Linked DNA regions of Homo sapiens. The protein of the gene in region 1 interacts with the protein of each later gene in a pairwise test. Each region holds a gene or a part of one and is shown in the gene's direction. Other genes may lie near its edges. The genes, in order: TOX4, CCBE1, HIPK3, EXOSC10 and MYL7.

Region 1 (4,016 bases):
TAAACTGAAATATCAGAAAGAGTCATGGACTGGAAGTTAAGAACTTCCACACAATAACAAAAATTATGGGCCAGACACAGTGGCTCACACTTGTAATCCTAGAACTTTGGGAGGCCAAGGTGGGAAGATCACTTGAGCCCAAGAGTTCAAGGCTGCAGTGAGTGGTGATGGAGCCATGCACTCAGCCTGGGCGACAGGGTAAGACCCTGTCTCAGAATTAAAAAAAACAACAACAAAACAACATACATAAATACATGATTTGTGTACTACTGAGAAAAGTTCAGTTCTTGGGGAAAGTTTCAGTTTTTCCCATCAAGAACTGCGTGGTATTTTTTGTTATTTGTGTGTGTGTGTGTGCGCGTGTGAGACAGAGTCTTGCTCTGTCATCCAGGCTGGAGTGCAGTGATGTGATCTTGGCTCACTGCAGCCTTCAACTCCTGGGTTCAAGCGATTCTCGTGCCTCAGCCACCTGGGTAGCTGGGATTACAGACGCACACCACCACACCCAGCTAATTTTTGTATTTTTAGTAGAGATGGGGTTTTCCATGTTGGCCAGGCTGGTCCCGAACTCCCGACTTTTCAAGTGATCCACCCACCTTGGCTTCCCAAAGTACTGGGATTACAGGTGTGAGCCACCACTACCAGCTGAGAACTGTGTGTTCTTATGCTCCGTGTGCTACTTATATCTCAGACAACGACCAGATTTTTTACCATACCAAGTAAAATAGTAAGGAGAAGGGAAACTGTACATATATCTTTTTGTCTTTTAGGAAACTTTTACAAATGTGATTCAGAGATTGGGCATTTCACAGGCACACTTTTTTCTCCCTAGTTTCTGCTAGCTGGAAATTTTCTTTCTAGCAATGTCTTTTTTTTTTTTTTTTTTTTTTTTTTTTTTTTTTTTTGAGACAGAGTCTTGCTCTGTCACCCGGGCTGGAGTGCAGTGGCACAATCTCGGCTCACTGCAGCCTCTGCCTCCTGGATTCAAGTGATTCTCCTGCCTCAGCCTCCTGATGTAGATGGCATTACAGGCACCTGCCACCACACCTGGCTAATTTTTGTATTTTTAGTAGAGATGGATTTTCGCCATGTTGGCCAGGCTGGTCTCGAACTCTTGACCTCAGGTGGTCCACCCACCTCGGCCTCCCAAAGTGCTGAGATTATAGGCATGAGCCACGGCACCCGGCCTTTATTTTCTTTCTTTTTCTTTTTTTTTAGACATGGTCTTGGTCTGTCGCCCAGGCAGGATTGCAGTGGTGCAGTCTTGACTCACTGTGACCTCTGACTCCTGAGTTCAAGTGATCCTCGTGCCTCAGCCTCTCGAGTAGCTAGGATTATAGGTGTGTGCCACCATGCCTGACTAATTTTTTGTTCTTTTGGTAGAGACGGGTTTCACTGTGTTGGCCAGGCTGGTCTCGAACTCCTGGCCTCGTGTGATCCGCCCACCTGGGCCTCCCGAAGTGCTGGGATTACAGGCGTGAGCCACTGCTCCCAGCCTAATGTCTTCATTAAACCAGAATTAGAGGCTGGGCGCTGTGGCTCATGCCTGTAATCCCAACAGTTTGGGAGGTCAAGGCAGGGTGATGGCTTGAGCCCAGGGGTTCAAGACCAGTCTGGGCAATATGGCCAGACCCAATCTCTACAAAAAATGCAAAAATTAGCCTGGCGTCATGGCCAGGCGTGGTGGCTCACGCCTGTGATCTCAGCACTTTGGGAGGCCAAGGAGGGCGGATCACCTGAGGTCGGGAGTTCAAGACCAGCCTGACCAACATGGAGAAACCCCGTCTCTACTAAAAATACAAAATTAGCCGGGCATGGTGGCACATGTCTGTAATCCCAGCTACTAGGGAGGCTGAGGCAGGAGAATCACTTGAACCTGGGAGGCGGAGGTTGCGGTGAGCTGAGATCACGCCATTGCACTCCAGCCTGGGCAACAAGAGTGAAACTCTGTCTCAAAAATAAAATAATAATAAAAATTAGCCTGGCATGGTGGTGTGCACCTGTAGTTACTTGGGAACCTGAGGTGGGAGAATCACTTGAACCCAGGAGGCGGAGGTTGCAGTGAGCAATATCACGCCACTGCATTTTATCATGGGTGACAAAGGAGACTCTATCTCAAAAAAAAAAAAAACTGCCAGGTGCGGTGGCCCATGCCTGTAATCCCAGCACTTTGGGAGGCTGAGGCGGGTGGATCACGAGGTCAAGAGATCGAGGCCAACATGGTGAAACCCCGTCTCTATTAAAAAACACAAAAATTAGCTGGGCGTGGTGGCACACACCTGTAGTCCTAGCTACTCTGGAGGCTGAGGCAGGAGAACTGCTTGAACCCGGGAGGTGGAGGTTGTAGTGAGCCAAGATCGCGCCACTGCACTCCAGCCTGGGCCACGGAGCGAGACTCTGTCTCAAAAAAAAGAAAAAAAAAAAAAGACAGAAATGGTCATAATAGAAGAACATTTCAGGATCTAGAGGAACCTTGAGGTCTGTAAGCCCAACACTTTGGAGGCCGAGGCAGTAGGATTACTTGAGTCCAGGAGTTCGAGACTAGCCTGGGCAACACAGGGAGAGCTCGTCTCCACAAAAAATTTTAAAAATTAGCTGGGTGTGGTGGCACATACCTGTAGTCCCAGCTACTCGGGAGGCTGGGGCTGGAGGCTTGCTTGAGCCCAGGAGTTCCAGATCAGCTTGGGTGACAGGGCAAGACCCCATCTCAAAAAAAAAGAAAAGGAACCTTTAGGAACTCTATTTAAAGAATGCATTGTTCAATTATGAAAAAAAAAAATGTTGGTACCTATTGAATTTGATCTGAATCAGTTTATATTTACTATGCTATGTGTTAGATTGATAGAATTTAAAGTTTCTAAAATTCCAATTATCTGTTATAATTGGTTGGGGTGGGGGTAATCATTATTAGGATATTATCATTCATAACAATGGTTAATGATGGTGATTAAGCCATTATATGTATCAGGCAATGTGCTAAGATTTTATGCATGAAATCTCACTTATCCTCATAATAACCATATAAGGGGATTACCATTATAATTCCCATTTTACAGATGAAGAAAACTTGTTCAAGGTCTTGTACCCAGGTCTCTCTGACAGCAGTCTCTTGCTATTATTTATAAATGTCTATTGCTGTAAATGCCACCATTTAGATTTTAGTGTCAAAACAGAACCATAGCAGTTCACATCTTAATCAGACATTGTCTGTTAGCTGCATGAGTGGTGGCCTCATTCAGAAAAGAAAGAATGTGTTATTATTGACCTAGTTGGACTCAGAGGAAGAGATTGGGTCTTTAGCCAACTGGAGTAATCCTTTTCCTCTCTTAGAGAGAAGCTTGGTCAGAGCAAGACTAGCATTTTTGGCATTGTTGAGGTTTTCTGAAAATCCTATACTAATGGGAATCTTTATTTGTTGTTAACATTATAATTTCTAAAGTGGAGAAGAAGTAGGAAACTCTGCAAATATTTTAGAGGGGGTAAAGTTCCCATGACAGTACATTTTAGCATCTGTTTGAAAGGAACCTAAAACAACAAAGTATAATTGGCTGGCTGACAGCGAATTTCTGTGACCTAACAGTTTAGATGTAATAATTGTGAAATAACTGCTCTATTAGAATCTTTAGAGAGAGATTTCAAGAATCATAGTAAACAGGTTATAAAGGCTATGTCCTAAGTAATGGTACTGAAAGAATTTTTCATTAGAACCATAGGCATAATTTAAGACAAAAGAGACGGTAATGGTAGAAAAGAGATAAAAGAATTGAAAATTGTGACTGATGTTAGCAGCCTTGAATGTACCAAATGACCAAGGGTATCAGAAGAGAGATTGGTAAAAATAATAGGTTCTAAGAAATTGATTATAAAATAGGATCCTAAGCAGAAAAAATGCATCCTGAGAATCTCTAGTACCCCATTATGTTCTTCACTTAGTAGTATGCCATTTCTCCTCTTTTCACTAATTCTTTTCCCCCTTTTTTCCCCTACAGACATTCCATACACCAAGCTTGGGTGAT
Region 2 (4,016 bases), on another chromosome or scaffold:
GCTATCCAAATGTGCTTTATTTAAAATCTGAGCTAGGAAGACTCTTCTAAAAACCAGAGATTAACTGGACCTCTGAGAAGCTGCCATTATTTTCATTGGTTCCAAGTTAGATCCGCTTAACTTTAATTGCTAATGTGTAACAGGTGCTAGATTCTGGCAGCTATAGCTAACTCCTTGAACTTGCCATCTTAAATAACACCTGAAGAGGACATGTGGGTTCCTGCCTGTGTGTTTAATTGTGCCACAGACACTGGCTTTGGAGTAGAGGATCAAGGTTTTAAAGGGGGTCCCCCGCCTTCCCACAAGAACAGGTGTTCGAGGGAGGGAAGGTTCTGTATCACTTCTCACTCACTCTCAGAGAAACAATACGGAGTAATTGGAAACAATTTTAACTCAGTAACCACAAAAGGCTGCTCTTTCACTGGTGTGTCCTTTGAGATCAGATCCAGTTGCTACTCTGGTTGCTGCCCAACTTCCTATGGTTAACTTCATCCTTTGTAAGTGAAGCTGGGGTGGGTGCACCCGGAAAAGCCAAATGCCTCTTTCTTGATTCTAGATATTCTATCTTCTCAGGAGAAGGCTTGCATTTCAATCAGCAGCTTTCCCAAACCCTGCTGTTCTCCTGCTCAGCAGGACCGGAGCTCCTTTTGTGAGTTTAGAGGGTCTGCTGGCATTTAAGGCATTGTTGAGTATCTAGAGAACAAAGATCACATTCTGTTTTAGATTATTGCTTTTATTTGCGGGATGAAAAAGTAAACAGCTATAACATCTGCAGTTCCTCTTCTGCCAAGTGAGGTCCTTTTTTTCTGCGAAGCTATTGACTCATTTTAAATAGTGTTTTAATTAGCTATTGACTAATTTTAATCTTATGAACAAGCTTCATTTACTTAGTCAACGAATACTTGTTGGGTACTTACAATCTGCCAGGCACTGTTCTAGACATTTAGAATATATCTGAAAATTGGACAAACCCCCAACAACAACAAAAATCCTCTGTCCTCAAGGAATTTTAATTCCCTTTATCTTTCAGTAAAGGAATTTTGACCCAAAGATTTCCTTTGGGACCTTTTTAAGATACTTGTTTTGGACATACATTTGATTAATGTCACACTTTGGAGGTTAAGATCTTAATTGCCGGTAGCCCAGCTGTGTCCTTTCAGCAACAGAAATCCCACAGCTTCAAGCAGAGTCAGGAAAACCCAGGGATGGTGGTAACAGAAGGTTTTCTGCAGAGGCGCTAGCAAGAACTTAGCATGTACCGCAAGTTTCTTCCAAGAATTATTGCAATGTGAAAGCATTACAAAGAGGAGGTGTTATTTTCTCATGTGACCTGTGATGTGGATAGCAGCATCAGAGTTGCCCCACTAGGGACAAATACCCCAAGCCCAGTTCACCTAGGCCAGCATCATGTTTTCCGACAGTGACTGTAAGCAGAGTTTTAAAGAAGGCATGCCCCTCCAACATTGCTTGACTCTCCACATAATGCATTATAGATCTGTCATCATATAAGTATGTGACACTTCTTGAACAGTTAGTTTCCAGCTTGAAACACCTGTAGAGAATGGGGTGGTAGTGATGCCTACACACTTAATCCTCATTAAGCAAAATGTCGCATCTTTCTAGCTTTAAGGTATGATCCATGTGTGCCAAGAGCCAATGTGAAAGCTTGGATGAATATGTTGCCACCTTATTGGTTGTGGTAGAACTAGTTCATCTTACCATGACCTTGAGGACTTCAGAAACTGGGACCACATCCGTTCTAGACCTTTCCTTCTTGGCCACTCCTGTGGGACATTCTATTTGCCTCATCTGGAGTGAAGCTTCTCATCCTTGGCCCTCTGGGAATGACAGGGACGGATGTCAGCCCCGTGGGCTGTCCCACAGGAGGCTATGTAAACAGAACTGGTGGGAGATACAGGGGGGCTCTCAACAGGTAGCGTCTAATCCTGGGAGTTTGGTAGAGAGCAGGGATTGGCAAACTAGGGCCCATGGCTTGTTCTTGTACTACTAATAGTTTGAGTAGTTTTTGTCTTGAAAGCATTGCAAAAGAACACACAGAATCCCAATTTGGCCCCCAAAGTCCCAGATATTTACTGCCTAGCCCCTTACAAAAGAAAACTTGACTCCTGTAGATCCACTTTAATACAAACACCAGGATTGGGGCTTTCCATCTATAACACCTCATCCACATGTCTGAATTCTCAAGGTGACCTTGGGACGGTCACTTACTCATCTTCATCTTTGGGTCACTTACCTGTGTATCACCTTATTTATATTACAGTGTTTGGATTTCTTGGCCAAGCATCTTTAGTTGTCACTTGGTTTTCTGATCTCCAGGAATCATAGTTTTTGTTGAGCTGGAACTTCTTTCAAGTCATCATTCCTAAGTGATACTCGAAATGAGCATAATCTGCCAGTTTCTAAGAAGCTGACTTTATTGCAAGGAGTTGATTGAGCACTCACTTCCTGCTGCCTTTCTATGGCTTTCCATGACAAGCCTTCCTGTGCCAATAGAATAACCCTTGAGTGTTACCTTGGTTTGCTACCTTACCTCATTGATTTGCATATCAATTATCACACGCTTTGTAGGCTGAAAGCCACCTCTCCATACATTTCAACATGTTAGGGTTTGTTTTTTGTTTTTGTTTTTTGAGACATGGTCTCACTCTGTTGCCTAGACTGCAGTACAGTGGTGCAATCATATCTCACTGCAGCCTCAATCTCCCAGGCTGAAGCTATCCTCCTGCTTCATCCTCCTGAGTAGCTGGGACTACATGAGCCCACCACCATGCCTGACTAATTTAATTTTTTGTAGAGATGGATTCTTGCTACGTTGTCCAGGCTGGTCTTGAACTCCTCAGCCTCCTAAAGTGTTGGGATTATAGGCATGAGCCACCGCACCTAGCCGAAATGTTAGTTTTGAATTAGTATAGTAGAAAAATTTTTACATTCAAAGATCAAATGATAGCATATATTTGGAGGAATACCCATCGAGGGAAAAAAAGCCATTTTCATTGAAGGTATTCGGAATCAGTTATAACTTTATATTTTTCCATGTATGGCTAAAAATATATTATAACACTATACAGGTACCCTATGCAGAATATATCAGTGATTAAACTTAAGAATTTCTTTTTTTTCAAATGGAATCTCTGTTGCCCAAGCTGGAGGGCAGTGGTGCAATCTCAGCTCACTGCAACCTCCAACTCTGGGGTTCAAGGGATTCTCCTGCCTCAGCCTCTAGAGTAGCTGGGACTATAAGCATGTGCCACCACGCCCAGCTAATTTTTTTGTATTTTTAGTAGAGATGGGGTTTTGCCATGTTGGCCAGGCTGGTCTTGAGCTCCTCAGGTGATCCACCCATCTCGGCCTCCCAAAGTACTGGGATTACAGGTGTGAGCCACTTGAACCCAGCCTAAACTTATGAATTTTTGAACTTCCTTTTAACACCAGCTGTTTTGTTCCACAAAGCTCATGGAGACTCCTAAATAGTGATGGCTTTAACAATGACTGTGGAAAACAGTAGTGGAGAAGGAGAGAACAGTCTAAAAGAAATATTCTGAAGTGAGAGAAACAAAGTCTGATAATGGTATTTTGGCAAAGGAAGGGAAAAGTTAGGAAACTGGAATTCATCATTTGATGTAATAGGAAGGTAAAGGAATGATGTGGTGTAGAGAAAAAAACACAGGCACAGATCTGTTCAGAAATAGGATCCTACGGAGATGAAGTTGTGAAAAAATTTAACGTTATGTGGACGTTCATGACCTTTAACATGTCCATTTTAACTTAAGTAGGCTAAACTTAGAAAGGTGCATAGATAGACAAATGTAAGCTTTGTAACCCTCTTCTTTTGTCTAGCGCTATTTCCTCGAAGATTGGAGGGCATCTGTAAGCCAGCACAGACCACACTGTGGCTTTTTCTGTGACTGTGACCTCTTAGCTTTCATTTGGATTGCTCTTGATAATGTGTCCTTGCTTCATTTTGGAATTTTCCCACAAAGAAATGGCTCAATTTT
Region 3 (4,016 bases), on another chromosome or scaffold:
TTTTGGGAAATAGTGAAAATGACCTGGATAGGGATTTAATCCATTTTGTAGGTTATGGACTTTAATGTTTATAATTGTTAGCTGTTACTTTTAGATAGTTTTGAGTTTAAGATATGGTAAAGTTCAATTACTTATAACTTGTTATTTTCTATTGTTTTGCTTTGCTGCAAGCAGACGTGGTCTGGTAGAACACAGCAGATGCTGGTGCCTGCCTGGCAACAGGTGACACCCCTGGCTCCTGCTACTACTACACTAACTTCTGAGAGTGTGGCTGGTTCACACAGGCTTGGAGACTGGGGGTAAGCTGAAAACAAAAGTACTTTGTGAATAGTTTGCAGACTAGATCTTGATTAAAGAAAGATCTTGATTAAAAACATTGTTCTGAACTTCTCCCTAGGAAGATGATTTCATGCAGCAATCATTATAACTCAGTGATGCCGCAGCCTCTTCTGACCAATCAGATAACTTTATCTGCCCCTCAGCCAGTTAGTGTGGGGATTGCACATGTTGTCTGGCCTCAGCCTGCCACTACCAAGAAAAATAAACAGTGCCAGAACAGGTTGGTATTGGTGCTTTAGCTTTCCTCTGCATTTTGAGAATCTTTTAAATGAATTTTGCATGTACTCTAAAGGGTCACTCTGTTGTATTCAAAATGACCTCTTTTATAGCTTTGTTACAAACACTAAGCCAGCTCCCTTCTCAATTTCTCAGAGGTATTTTGGTAAAACTAATGGAATGGGAGCCAGGAAGAGAGGAAATAAATGCTTTCAGTTGGTAAGATTGTCTTTATTGCCCTTTTGATTTATTATCTACCTGTAATGTAGCAATTGTGGACATTCAGATAGCACATTTACCAAAAAGCAACTATTTAAATGTATGTAAATGCAGTCTACATGGATATTTCTAGAGCTATTTTATATTTCACAAAAACTCAAGATCTGTTAGTGTGTTATATTCATGAACTCGAACAAGTGAAGGTTCTCATTTTCTGGTTTAACAAGATACCTTAGACAATTGATTATACATATTTTGATTATAGAAATTATAAATTATTCCTTTGGTTGCAGGAGTAATTCATTACAGAATACCAATATCCCACATTCAGCATTTATTTCTCCAAAGATAATTAATGGGAAAGATGTCGAGGAAGTAAGTTGTATAGAAACACAGGACAATCAGAACTCAGAAGGAGAGGCAAGAAATTGCTGTGAAACATCTATCAGACAGGACTCTGATTCATCAGTTTCAGACAAACAGCGGCAAACCATCATTATTGCCGACTCCCCGAGTCCTGCAGTGAGTGTCATCACTATCAGCAGTGACACTGATGAGGAAGAGACTTCCCAGAGACATTCACTCAGAGAGTAAGTGCCAAACGCTGCATCCTCAAAGGATATAGATGGCATCCTTTGGTGTGCCGAAAAACAACTTTCTGTGACTTATTTCTTGTTTGTCAATGTACTCTGGAGTAAAACCTTTAAATTAGATAACCCAGTTCTAGACAGGGAACTTTCTAAATAACATTTAGCACGATTATTATAGCATTTTCCTTGTATCTGTAAGCTTTAACTTTTTGTCCATGTAGGTCATTCTTAACAGTTTCATATCCTTAATTAAAGAATATAAATTTTGGCTATTTGGAGAGTATCTTCTTGTATTTGACTCATGTTTTTCCCTTTTCTCTTCCACTAGATGTAAAGGTAGTCTAGATTGTGAAGCTTGCCAGAGCACTTTGAATATTGATCGGATGTGTTCATTAAGTAGTCCTGATAGTACTCTGAGTACCAGCTCCTCAGGGCAGTCCAGCCCATCCCCCTGCAAGAGACCGAATAGGTAAAAGAATCTCAATAGTAGTGTGTAATAAATAGTAAGTCTACTAAAAAGCCTACGATTTCTTTCTGTTGTTTAATAAGTACCTGCCAGTTTACCACAGTGACTTCTATCTTGAACACAATTTTTGAACTAGATCAGTTTTTATAAACACAGGTTTGTTTGTTTGTTTGTTTGTTTTTGAGACAGGGTCTTGCTTTGTTGCCCAGGCTGGAATGCAGTGGCATGATCTCGGCTCACAGCAACCTCTGCCTCCCAGGCTCAAGCAATCCTCTTGCCTTAGCCTCTTGAGTAGCTGGGACCACAGGTGCGCACAGCGATGCTCGGCTAATTTTTAAGTTTTTTTTGTAGAGATGGGATCTTGCCCTGTTGCACAGGCTGGTCTTGAACTCCTGGGCTCAACCAGTGCTCCCACCTTGGCCTCCCAAAGTGCTGGGATTACAGGCATGAGCCACCATACCTAACTAAATAATCTTTTTTTGCTGAGGGGCGGGTGGGAGGAGATGAAGTGTGGCTCTGTCACCTAGGCTGGAGTGCAATGGTGTGATCTTGGCTCACCGCAGCCTCCGCCTCCCCAGGTTCAAGTGAGTCTCCTGCCTCAGCCTCCCATGTAGCTGGGACTACAGGAACCTGCCACCACACCTGGCTAATTTTTTGTATTTTTAGTAGAGATGGGGTTTCACCAGGACATGCTGGTCTTGAACTCCTTACCTCAGGTGATCTGCCTGCCTCAGCCTCCCAAAATGCTAGGATTACAGGCGTGAGCCACCACATCCAGCCAAATAATCTATTTTTGAAAGGATAAAAAAGCCACATTCTTAATTTCAGCCCCACAGACTACTATTGTAACTTAAATTTGGAATAAAAACATATACTTTAGCAAAATTAAAAAGGAATGTTTTGCATAATGAAGTACTCACTGGCCCACTGTCTACAGGACATCCACTATGATTTTTTTCTCCCATTGGTGACTGATTTGCATGGTTTTATCCATATTAACCTGGCTTACCCATCCTTTGGCCAGCGACATGTACCACTGCTAAGATAGTAAGCTTGTCCTAAGCAGAATGATTTACTAACGCATTGAGAGATAAGCCACAGTCTAGGCACAGTGGCCAACACTTGTAATCCCAGCACTTTGGGAGGCCAAGGCAGGAGGATCACTTGAGGCCAAGAGTTCGAGACCAGCCTGGACAACATAGTGAGACCCCGCCTCTACCAAAAATTAAAAAAAAAAAAAAAAGCAGGATGTGGTGTTGCATGCCTGTAGTGCTAGCTACTCAGGAGGCTGAGGCAGGAGGATTATTTGAGCCCTGTAATTTGAGGCTGCAGTGAGCTATGATCACACCACTGCACTATAGCCTGGGCAACAGAGTAAGACCCTATCTCTTAGAAAGGAAGGAAGGAAGGAGGGGAAGGAAAGAAAGAAATAAAGTCTTATTTTAGTGGCAACAAACATTTGAAAAATTTTAAGTTTTAATTTTACACATCTTTTTCCTTAGGAAATATGATATTGCATTCTTATAGCCAAAGCTCTATGGAAAATATAAGGAAATTTTAATGTATCTTCTTAAAAGTTGCTTATAATATGGTTTGAAAATTGATAATGTACATAACTATACATTCACATGTAAAATATATATAAACAAATATACGTATAAGATATATAAATAAAAATATGTATAAAAAGAGATGCTTCAAATTCGTAAGTAAGTATGGAATGAGTGGTTGAAACAGACAATAAATGCTGTAGAAATCCCAAGGAGAGAGAGATTGTCAGGGCCCAAGAGTGTCAGGAAGAGATGAGAAATATGGGGCTCTGTCTAGGCCTTCAGAGGTGTGGGGATACCTTTCAGATACCTGGTTAGGTACAAGGACCCAAATTACCAGCAGAGGCACATATCCTGATGTTAGAATTTAATTTGAAATAGCCAAGTCACATACATATATGTTTGTATATTTCATTTAAATTATCCAGAGCAGTGCCTCTTTTGTCATGTCTTGATGAAATTATCTGGAATTTATAAAGAGGAATTTTATGAGCTGCTACTAAGGATCAAATGGGAAGGGAAAGAAGAAAAAAAAAATGCCAAAATGATGTTCCTGAAATGGAACAGAATTAGGTTTGGCAGTTGGAACAGAGAATTAATTTAAGGGTCTAGAAATTTTATGAAAAAGTGCTATTG
Region 4 (4,016 bases), on another chromosome or scaffold:
GCCTGGCCAACATGGTGAAACCCCGTCTCTACTAAAAATACAAAAAATTAGCCAGGCGTGTGGTGCACGCCTGTAATCCCAGCTACTCCGGAGGCTGAGGCAGGAGAATTGCTTGAATCCGGGAGGCGGAGGTTGCAGTGAGCCGAGATCGCGCCACTGCACTCTAGCCTGGGAGGCAGAGCGAGACTCCGTCTCAAAAAAAAAAAAAAAGATTTTCTACTGAAGGGTCCCAACTTAGCAAGCCTGTTTTTTTTTTGTTTGTTTGTTTTTTGTTTTTTTTAGACGGAGTCTCGCTCTGTCTCCAGGCTGGAGTGCAGTGGCATGATCTCGGCTCACTGCAACCTCCGCCTCCTGGATTCAAGCAGTTCTCCTGACTCAACCTCCTGAGTCGCTGGGATTACAGGCATGCACCACCACGCCTGGCTAATTTTGTATTTTTAGTAGAGGCGGGGTTTCACCATGTTGGCCAGGCTGGTCTCGAACTCCTGACCTCAGGTGATCCACCACCTGGGCCTCCCAAAGTGCTGGGATTACAGGCGTGAGCCATCATGCCCAACTTTAGCAGGCCTGTTTTTTCTGCTAGTGTCTTATTCCTTGTGGCTTCCTAGATTCATGAGCTGGTCTGCATTCTAAACAACCCTAGGGAAATAATAGGGCTTAGGAAATCCAGTGTGTGTGTCTTGATGAATTTAGCTGCTTTTTTTTATGATAGTTGAGAGCTAAGACTCTTTATTTATGACCTTAGCTTTGATGATTCAGCAGCAAGTACTGTCTGGTAACTGGGCCAATTCACTGTTCTAAGGCAGTTAATGTGGTGGAGTGAGATGGAGCGGTGACCTCAGCAGAGGGAGCTAGTTTTGGGAGCCTGGCGATGGCCCAGATGTGAAGTGATAGCTCCCTGAATGAGTGAGGAATCACACACTGAGAAGGAAAGAACAGGTGTAGGAAGCATCAGAAGAAAAGATTGATGAGACTTCGTAGCAAATGCTGACAATGGCAGCCAGTTTTCTTTTGTTTTTTTTGTTGTTGTTGTTGTTTTGAAACAGGGTCAGCCGGGCGCGGTGGCTCACGCCTGTAATCCCAGCACTTTGGGAGGCCGAGGCGGGCGGATCACGAGGTCAGGAGATCGAGACCATCCCGGCTAAAACGGTGAAACCCCGTCTCTACTAAAAATACAAAAAATTAGCCAGGCGTAGTGGCGGGCGCCTGTAGTCCCAGCTACTTGGGAGGCTGAGGCAGGAGAATGGCGTGAACCCGGGAGGCGGAGCTTGCAGTGAGCCGAGATCCCGCCACTGCACTCCAGTCTGGGCGACAGAGCGAGACTCCGTCTCAAAAAAAAAAAGAAACAGGGTCTTGCTCTGACACCCAGGCTGGAGTGCAGTGGTGCAATCATGGCTCACTGTAGCCTCGCATCTGCTAGGCTCCCACCTTAGCCTCCTGAGCAGCTGGGACCACAGGCATACACCACCATACCCAGCTATGTTTTTTTTAATTTTTTGTAGAGATGGGTCTTGCTGTGTTTCCCAGACTGGTCTTGAACCCGTGGGCTCAAGCAGTCCTCCCACCTCAGCCTCCCAAAGTACTGGAATTACAGTTGTGAGCCACCTGCCAGCCCCACATTTGCAATTTTTGTGTTAAAAATGTCTTTGTAAGCTCTGTACTTTGTCCAAGTAAAGAGAGACCTTGATTACTAGAGAAGAGTCTTTTTCAAGCTCTTTGGAATCCTTCCTATTGTGCTTAGTCATGTTAAAGAGCTTTATTCTTTCATTCTACAAATAATTATTGAGCACCAAATAATTATCATGCCAGGCACTGTAAGGAGTGAAGAGAGGAAAGAAAATCTCTGGGCTTTTGAGAAACAGGCTGGTGAAGGAATACAGTCAGCGCTGGAGACTGGGGGTTGGACTTGAGGTGCTTGGGCAACTTTCCTCAATTCCCTTCGTTTTTTTCCTTAGTCTGAAGTTGCAGCCGGAGTGAAGAAGAGCGGACCGCTGCCCAGTGCTGAGGTAGAGTGTCGGATCTGTTTTCTCCCCCAGGAGGGAAAACGTCAAGTCACAGCCAGTGCAAGTACACCTCTGACAGAGGCCTGTGCTGACAGCTGGCAGAAAGCTACTGCCGGCTTGCACGTTTTACATGCCAGCCTGCTGGTGTCTTTTAATGCAGAGATTGGAGAATGTTCTCTTTGGACCTCACGACTGCTCCCATGCCCCTCCGGATGGCTATCCAATCATCCCAACCAGTGGTAAAGTCGAGAGCCCTCCTGACTGTCCCGAAGAGGTTGGGACACAGCTACCTTGTCTAAAATTCTGTAGGCTTGGCCGGGCGTGGTGGCTTATGCCTGTAATGCCAGCATATTGGAAGGCTGAGGCGGGTAGATCACCTGAGGTCAGGAGTTTGAGACCAGCCTGGCCAACATGGTGAAACCCCATCTCTACTAAAAATACAAAAATTAGCTGGCATGGTGGTGGGCACCTGTAATCTTAGCTACTTAGGAGGCAGAGGCAGGAGAATCACTTGAACCGAGGAGGCGGAGGTTGCAGTGAGCCGAGATTGTGCCATTGTACTCCAGCCTAGGGGACTACACTAAAACTCCATCTCAAAAAGAAAAAATAAACAAAATTCTGTAGGCTTTGACCTTACTATCTTCTGCTCCTCTAGGATCTGTGCCAGTTCAGAAGCAGGCGAGCCTCTTCCCTGATGAAAAAGAAGATAACTTGCTGGGTACCACATGCCTGATTGCCACAGCTGTCATCACGTTATTTAATGTGAGTAGCACAGAAACTTCACTGAGGTGATGAGGACCCCCTGGGATTTACTGGATTTATTCAGCAGGCTGTCTGCCTGGAGCATTGCATACACTCGGAGACTAATGCTGAGAGCAAAACCCAGCAGTGCTGGGAGAGGCATAGAGACCAATGAGCAAGGTGGCACTGACCACTCTGGAGGAGGTGGTCTGGGGACGTGGATGGGGGATTCTCTTGAGCTCTGTGTGAAGAAATCTTCCAGGAAAGGCTGACGTCCTGTTGTTGAACAGCACCTAGTGGGAGGAGGGCCTGCGCTAAGAGAACATACAAGCAGGGCTTTCCAGACAAGCTGCAGTGGTGGTGGAGGAAAAACGGTTCACCTGGATGCCCAGCAGGGGTGGCATGGGTGTACTGTCCGATGAACTGTAGAATGTGCGCTGCCCATAGCTTCCTGCCTGACCCCAGCACCACATATGTGTGCTTTCAGTGAAGAAGAGAAATGATTTTTTTTTTTTTTGAGACAATCTTGTTCTGCCACCAAGGCTGGAATGCAGTGGCACAATCATGGCTCACTGCAGCCTTGACTTCTGAGGCTCAAACGATCCTCCTGCCTCAGCCTCCTGAGTAGCTGGGATTACAGGCATGAGTCACTGTGCCCAGCTATTTCACTTTTTTTGTTTGTTTGGTTTGGTTTTTTGAGATGGAGTTTCGCTCTTGTTGCACAGGCTGGAGTGCAGTGGCATCATCTCGGCTCACTGCAACCTCCACCTCCCAGGTTCAAGCGATTCTCCTGCCTCAGCTTCCCTAGTAGCTGGGATTGCAGGCGCCCGCCACCATACTTAGCTAATATTTTATATTTTTAATAGAGATGGGGCCACTATGTTGGCCAGGCTGGTCTCGAATGCCTGACCTCAGGCGATCCACCCACCTAAGCCTCCCAAAGTGCTGGGATTACAGGCATGAGCCACCACACCCGGCATTTTTTTTTTTTTTTTTTTTTTTTTTTTTTGTGACAGGATCTCATCCTGTCACCCAGGTGGGAGTGCAGTGGCACCATCCTGGCTCACTGCAACCTCTGCCTCCTGGGCTCAAGCAATCCCTCTGCCCCAGCCTTCTCTCGAGTAGCTGGGACTACAGGTGTATGCCACCATGCCCAGCCAATTTTTGTATGTTTTGTAGAGGTGGGGTTTCACCATGTCGCCCAGGCTTCACTTTGGTTTTTAACTTAATTACATAAATCTAGATTGGGCCTTGCTTTAGCAATTAATGAGA
Region 5 (4,447 bases), on another chromosome or scaffold:
ACTTGAGCCCAGGAGGTTGTCTGCAGTGAGCTCTACTCATGCCACTGCACTCCAGCCTGGGTGACAGAGCTCAGTGGCTTACACCTGTAATCCTAGCACTTTGGGAGGCTGAAGCAGGCAGATCACCTAAGATCAGGAGTTCGAGACCGGCTGGCCAACATGATAAAACCCCGTCTTTACTAAAAATAAAATAAAATAAAAAATATATATAAAAATTAGCTGGGTGTGGTGGCACATGCCTATAATCCCAGCTGCTTGGGAGGCTGAGGAACAAGAATGGCTTGAACCCGGGAGGCAGAGGTGGCAGTGAGCTGAGATCGCGCCACTGCACTCCAGCCTGTGCGAGAGTGAGACTCTGTCTCAAAAAAAAAAAAGGGAATTTAAGAAATTTAAAAGAAAACTCTTGTTATATAAAAAGGGTATTGGGTCTGACAGATAAGAGCTCCTGCACTCTACCAGCCAGCTACTGACAGACATAGGTCTGGCTCCAGTGGAGGGGCAGCAGCCAGTGAGCCCAGCCTGGGGTGGCCCACTCCTGCTGCCTCCAGGATGTCCCCTGTTTCCCCAGCCCCTCTGCTGTGCCCTCGGCCCCAGAAGCTGGCGAGACTGCTTCTCTGGAACAGCATCACGCAGGCCTGCCCATCGGCCCACTGTGCACCAGGCCTTCTGGGGATACAGATGTCAACCAGGTGGGGTGCTCAGGAGGGGCACAGAAGCCAGGAATGACAAACACATCAGCCACCAGGCAAATGGGAAATGTGCCCCAGAAGCTCCCTGCTGAGGATGTTAGGGAGAGCATTCTGAAGTAGTGTGGTTGAGATGAGGCTTGAGGAAGGCAAGGCTCCAAACAGCAGGGCAGACTGGGAGCAAGGTAGACTGCATGGGAGGGCAGCTGATGGAGCTCCTTAACCCTCTGGAATTGCCCCAAAGCCAAGCAAAGTGTTCTTCTTGGGGTCACAGCTAGCTCAGGGATGCCTTCTGCCCCTTGGTCAGAGGGGCAAAAGGTCAGAGCCTAGGGTCACCAAAACCTCTGGGAAGCCCCGGGGGTCTCAGGCCACAGACCATCCTCAGAACTACACACTGCCCTCCCATGCCTGGCGGGGGCCCTGGACTGGCCCTCACCAGCTGTCTTCTTGCACTGGCCAGGGTTCTGGCTGGACTGGCAAGGAGGGGTGGTCAGATACAGGAGTAACTGGATCCCTTCATCAGGACCTAGGGTGGTGAGAGCTTTGAGCCTGCTCTGCTCCAGGCAGACATTGTGTCTGGCCCTGCCAGGATGGATAGACAGCAGGATGTTACACGTTGAGGACATGAAGGTCATCAGGAATGTGGCTGGAATCTGTTAGGCCTCCCCCAGCCCAGGCGGGGGCTGCCAAGTTTGGGCCTATCCTCTGTTCCTCTCCTTATTTGGACCTTCAGGTGATAAGGCTGAGACATAAAGGAGGCTGGGCCCTGCCACCACGACAGCAGCCACACCTCTGCAGAGAGAATGGTGAGTGCCTGCTGGGGAAGAAAGGCTAGCGGTCTCCCAGGTGCTGGCCTTTGGGCTGGGGGAGCAGAGTTTTCTGTGCTTGTGTTGGGTTGAGGGTGGTCCCCAGGGAGAGGAAGAGGATCCTGGCCCTGGCTCTCCTGGGAATGCTCTGGGACTGTGCATGATGGGTGGGGTGGGGAGACTCTGAGGAGTTGGGGAGAGGACCCCTCCCTACTCACAGTGTTGCAGGCCAGCAGGAAGGCGGGGACCCGGGGCAAGGTGGCAGCCACCAAGCAGGCCCAACGTGGTTCTTCCAACGTCTTTTCCATGTTTGAACAAGCCCAGATACAGGAGTTCAAAGAAGTGAGTGCCCACTCCCAGTAGCCTCAGATCCCATCCTGGCCCCCCCACCCCACCCCACATACATACCCCCCTTCTACCCTGACCTTGCCTCTCACACCACCCAGGTCTCTCCCCCACCTCCCACCTTCCCTAGAGCTGGGGGCTGCTCCCACCTGAAGGCCCCCATCCCACAGGCCTTCAGCTGTATCGACCAGAATCGTGATGGCATCATCTGCAAGGCAGACCTGAGGGAGACCTACTCCCAGCTGGGTGCGTGCACCCACCTCCCACCCTGCGCACTGGGGTCCCTACTCTGAGCTGCTGGGCGGGTGGGAGTGGCTGGGGGGACAGGACTCTGCTCCCCTGCTTCCCCTCCTCCCCGTCTCCTCACACTGCCCTTCCCCCCTTGTCACGCCTTGCTTCCACTTCACCTTCCCGACCCACAGCTGCCTCTGCCCCTCCAGCCCCTGTGGCCAGGATGGAGGGAGGGCGGCCTGGGCCTTCTGGGGGACACCCAGGGTCCCTGTGTGCACCTCATGCCCCACCCCCACCAGGGAAGGTGAGTGTCCCAGAGGAGGAGCTGGACGCCATGCTGCAAGAGGGCAAGGGCCCCATCAACTTCACCGTCTTCCTCACGCTCTTTGGGGAGAAGCTCAATGGTGAGCCTGGGACAGAGCTGGGCACCCTTGGCCAGGCAGGGAGCCTGCACCCTGCCTGAACCCCACCTGAACCCTGCCTGAACCCCACCTGAACCTTACATGAACCCCACCTGAACCCTAACTGAACCCCACCTGGACCCACCTGGACTCTTCCTGGCCATGACCCATTCCAAGCACATCCTCTGCCCCAGAATCCCATGTGCACTGGTCACCCCAGTGCTGACTTGGAGCCAGGAAATGTGCCTTCAGCCCCCACCCCCAAATTCCAGTCTCCCAGCCAAGCTGCCCGCCTCAGGAGGATGACCATTCCCAGCCCCACTGATCCCCGAGAAACATTTTATGTTAGGGAATACCCCCACCTCTTCTGGGATGTGGGAGGCTCCTCATGCAGCCCAGTTCCTCCTGCGGGGGACCTGGGATGCTGGAGACATGGATGCTCACCTGGCTGCCTCGGCCTTCCAGGGACAGACCCCGAGGAAGCCATCCTGAGTGCCTTCCGCATGTTTGACCCCAGCGGCAAAGGGGTGGTGAACAAGGATGAGTAAGTATGGGCCCAGCCAGATGAGGAGCACCGTGGTGGAAGCAGAGAGCGGGGTGAGGCCCCTAGTGAGGGGGGCTGCCTGTGCTTCGGGGCCTTACACTGCTCTTTGGGGTGCAGCCAACCCTTCCCTGCGCCATGGGAGCCTCCGTACCCACCTTCCCTGTGCAGTCACTCCCCCGCAGTCTCCTGCTCAGACCCTCCTCACCCCCCAGGTTCAAGCAGCTTCTCCTGACCCAGGCAGACAAGTTCTCTCCAGCTGAGGTGAGGCTGCCCAGCCCCTTCAATACTCATCCCCAGCACCTTCTCTGGGCCTTCACCCATGACCCAGAGCCCAGTACCAGTGAGGCAGTTGCTGGAAGGGTGAGCCGAGGGCCCTTCTGGAGGAGGTGCCATCTCTGTTGAGACCTAGAGGGTAAAGATGTGGAGTCAGAAAAGAGGGCAGGGTGCGCCAGGCAGGGAGACTGTGCACAGACCTGGGGGGAAGTGGATAGGGAGAGGTTTCGTACACTCGGGGTGGGCCTGTGCCTGTGGCTGGAGGGGCGTCCTTTGCCTCTTGGCCCACATTTGCACTGACTCCTCACTCTGCCCAGAGTCAGCCAAGAGAAAAACATTAACCCAGAGTCTGGGGTCTAGGGTTGAAAAGCTAAGGCAAAAAGCACAGATGCAGGGGGCAGACAGAAAGGCCACAGGACTCAGGTGAGGTCTCTGCCGGGCTGGGCCAGGAGCCAGGGGACTGCCACTCACCAGTGTCCCCTGCAGGTGGAGCAGATGTTCGCCCTGACACCCATGGACCTGGCGGGGAACATCGACTACAAGTCACTGTGCTACATCATCACCCATGGAGACGAGAAAGAGGAATGAGGGGCAGGGCCAGGCCCACGGGGGGGCACCTCAATAAACTCTGTTGCAAAATTGGAATTGCTGTGGTGTCTTGTCTGTGACAGATGGGTTGGGGACCAGCCAAGGGGGATCCCAGGGTCTCAGTGCGCACATCACCATGATCATGGCCACCATCTACCTCCTGGGAGCTGGCCCCTCGCCAGCTCACCTTGATTCACTCCCATGATGCCAAGTGAAGTGTGAACTATGATCATGCCTAGTTTACAGATGAGGACACTGAGGCCCAGAAAGTGTGAGCATCTTACCAAGGCCAGCCCTCTAGAAGAGGAGATGGTGGGATTTACACCACCTCCACCAAGCCCAGGAATGAGCCACAAAGTGGGCACTGCCCAGCTACTTGGGGCTGTGCAGAGAAGAGGCTGCTTGCTGGGCACTCAGCAAACTCTGCCCAACAGCCCAGCGGGTGGGCAGCAGCCCTGGGACCCCCACACCCAACCACACAGCCTCCCCTGGCCCACTGCTCGCACCCCATCTCAATACACTGGCTTGGGTGCCTCCCTGCATGGGCCCTTTGTGAAAGGCAGAGAGGTACCC

What was found.
Region 2: the proteins of TOX4 (region 1) and CCBE1 interact in a two-hybrid assay, tested with the Homo sapiens proteins (one large-scale study listed by BioGRID and IntAct).
Region 3: the proteins of TOX4 (region 1) and HIPK3 interact in a two-hybrid assay, tested with the Homo sapiens proteins (one large-scale study listed by BioGRID and IntAct).
Region 4: the proteins of TOX4 (region 1) and EXOSC10 interact in a two-hybrid assay, tested with the Homo sapiens proteins (one large-scale study listed by BioGRID).
Region 5: the proteins of TOX4 (region 1) and MYL7 interact in binary tests that used the Homo sapiens proteins (3 or more experiments, as listed by UniProt).

What each region holds. Positions count from the first base shown.
Region 1 is NC_000014.9:21,483,462-21,487,477, forward strand, and holds part of TOX4 (TOX high mobility group box family member 4), read left to right. Parts: intron 1-3,989; coding exon 3,990-4,016. UniProt on the Homo sapiens protein: Transcription factor that modulates cell fate reprogramming from the somatic state to the pluripotent and neuronal fate. In liver, controls the expression of hormone-regulated gluconeogenic genes such as G6PC1 and PCK1.
Region 2 is NC_000018.10:59,687,081-59,691,096, reverse strand, and holds part of CCBE1 (collagen and calcium-binding EGF domain-containing protein 1 precursor), read left to right. Parts: intron 1-4,016. UniProt on the Homo sapiens protein: Required for lymphangioblast budding and angiogenic sprouting from venous endothelium during embryogenesis.
Region 3 is NC_000011.10:33,347,455-33,351,470, forward strand, and holds part of HIPK3 (homeodomain-interacting protein kinase 3), read left to right. Parts: intron 1-174; coding exon 175-299; intron 300-397; coding exon 398-559; intron 560-711; coding exon 712-774; intron 775-1,067; coding exon 1,068-1,364; intron 1,365-1,692; coding exon 1,693-1,833; intron 1,834-4,016. UniProt on the Homo sapiens protein: Serine/threonine-protein kinase involved in transcription regulation, apoptosis and steroidogenic gene expression. Phosphorylates JUN and RUNX2. Seems to negatively regulate apoptosis by promoting FADD phosphorylation.
Region 4 is NC_000001.11:11,075,591-11,079,606, reverse strand, and holds part of EXOSC10 (exosome complex component 10), read left to right. Parts: intron 1-1,955; coding exon 1,956-2,006; intron 2,007-2,163; coding exon 2,164-2,242; intron 2,243-2,658; coding exon 2,659-2,765; intron 2,766-4,016. UniProt on the Homo sapiens protein: Catalytic component of the RNA exosome complex which has 3'->5' exoribonuclease activity and participates in a multitude of cellular RNA processing and degradation events.
Region 5 is NC_000007.14:44,138,348-44,142,794, reverse strand, and holds MYL7 (myosin regulatory light chain 2, atrial isoform), read left to right. Parts: upstream 1-1,462; 5' UTR 1,463-1,489; coding exon 1,490-1,492; intron 1,493-1,720; coding exon 1,721-1,834; intron 1,835-1,938; coding exon of another isoform or gene 1,939-2,007; coding exon 2,008-2,083; intron 2,084-2,367; coding exon 2,368-2,472; intron 2,473-2,934; coding exon 2,935-3,013; intron 3,014-3,225; coding exon 3,226-3,274; coding exon of another isoform or gene 3,275-3,373; intron 3,374-3,772; coding exon 3,773-3,874; 3' UTR 3,875-3,931; downstream 3,932-4,447.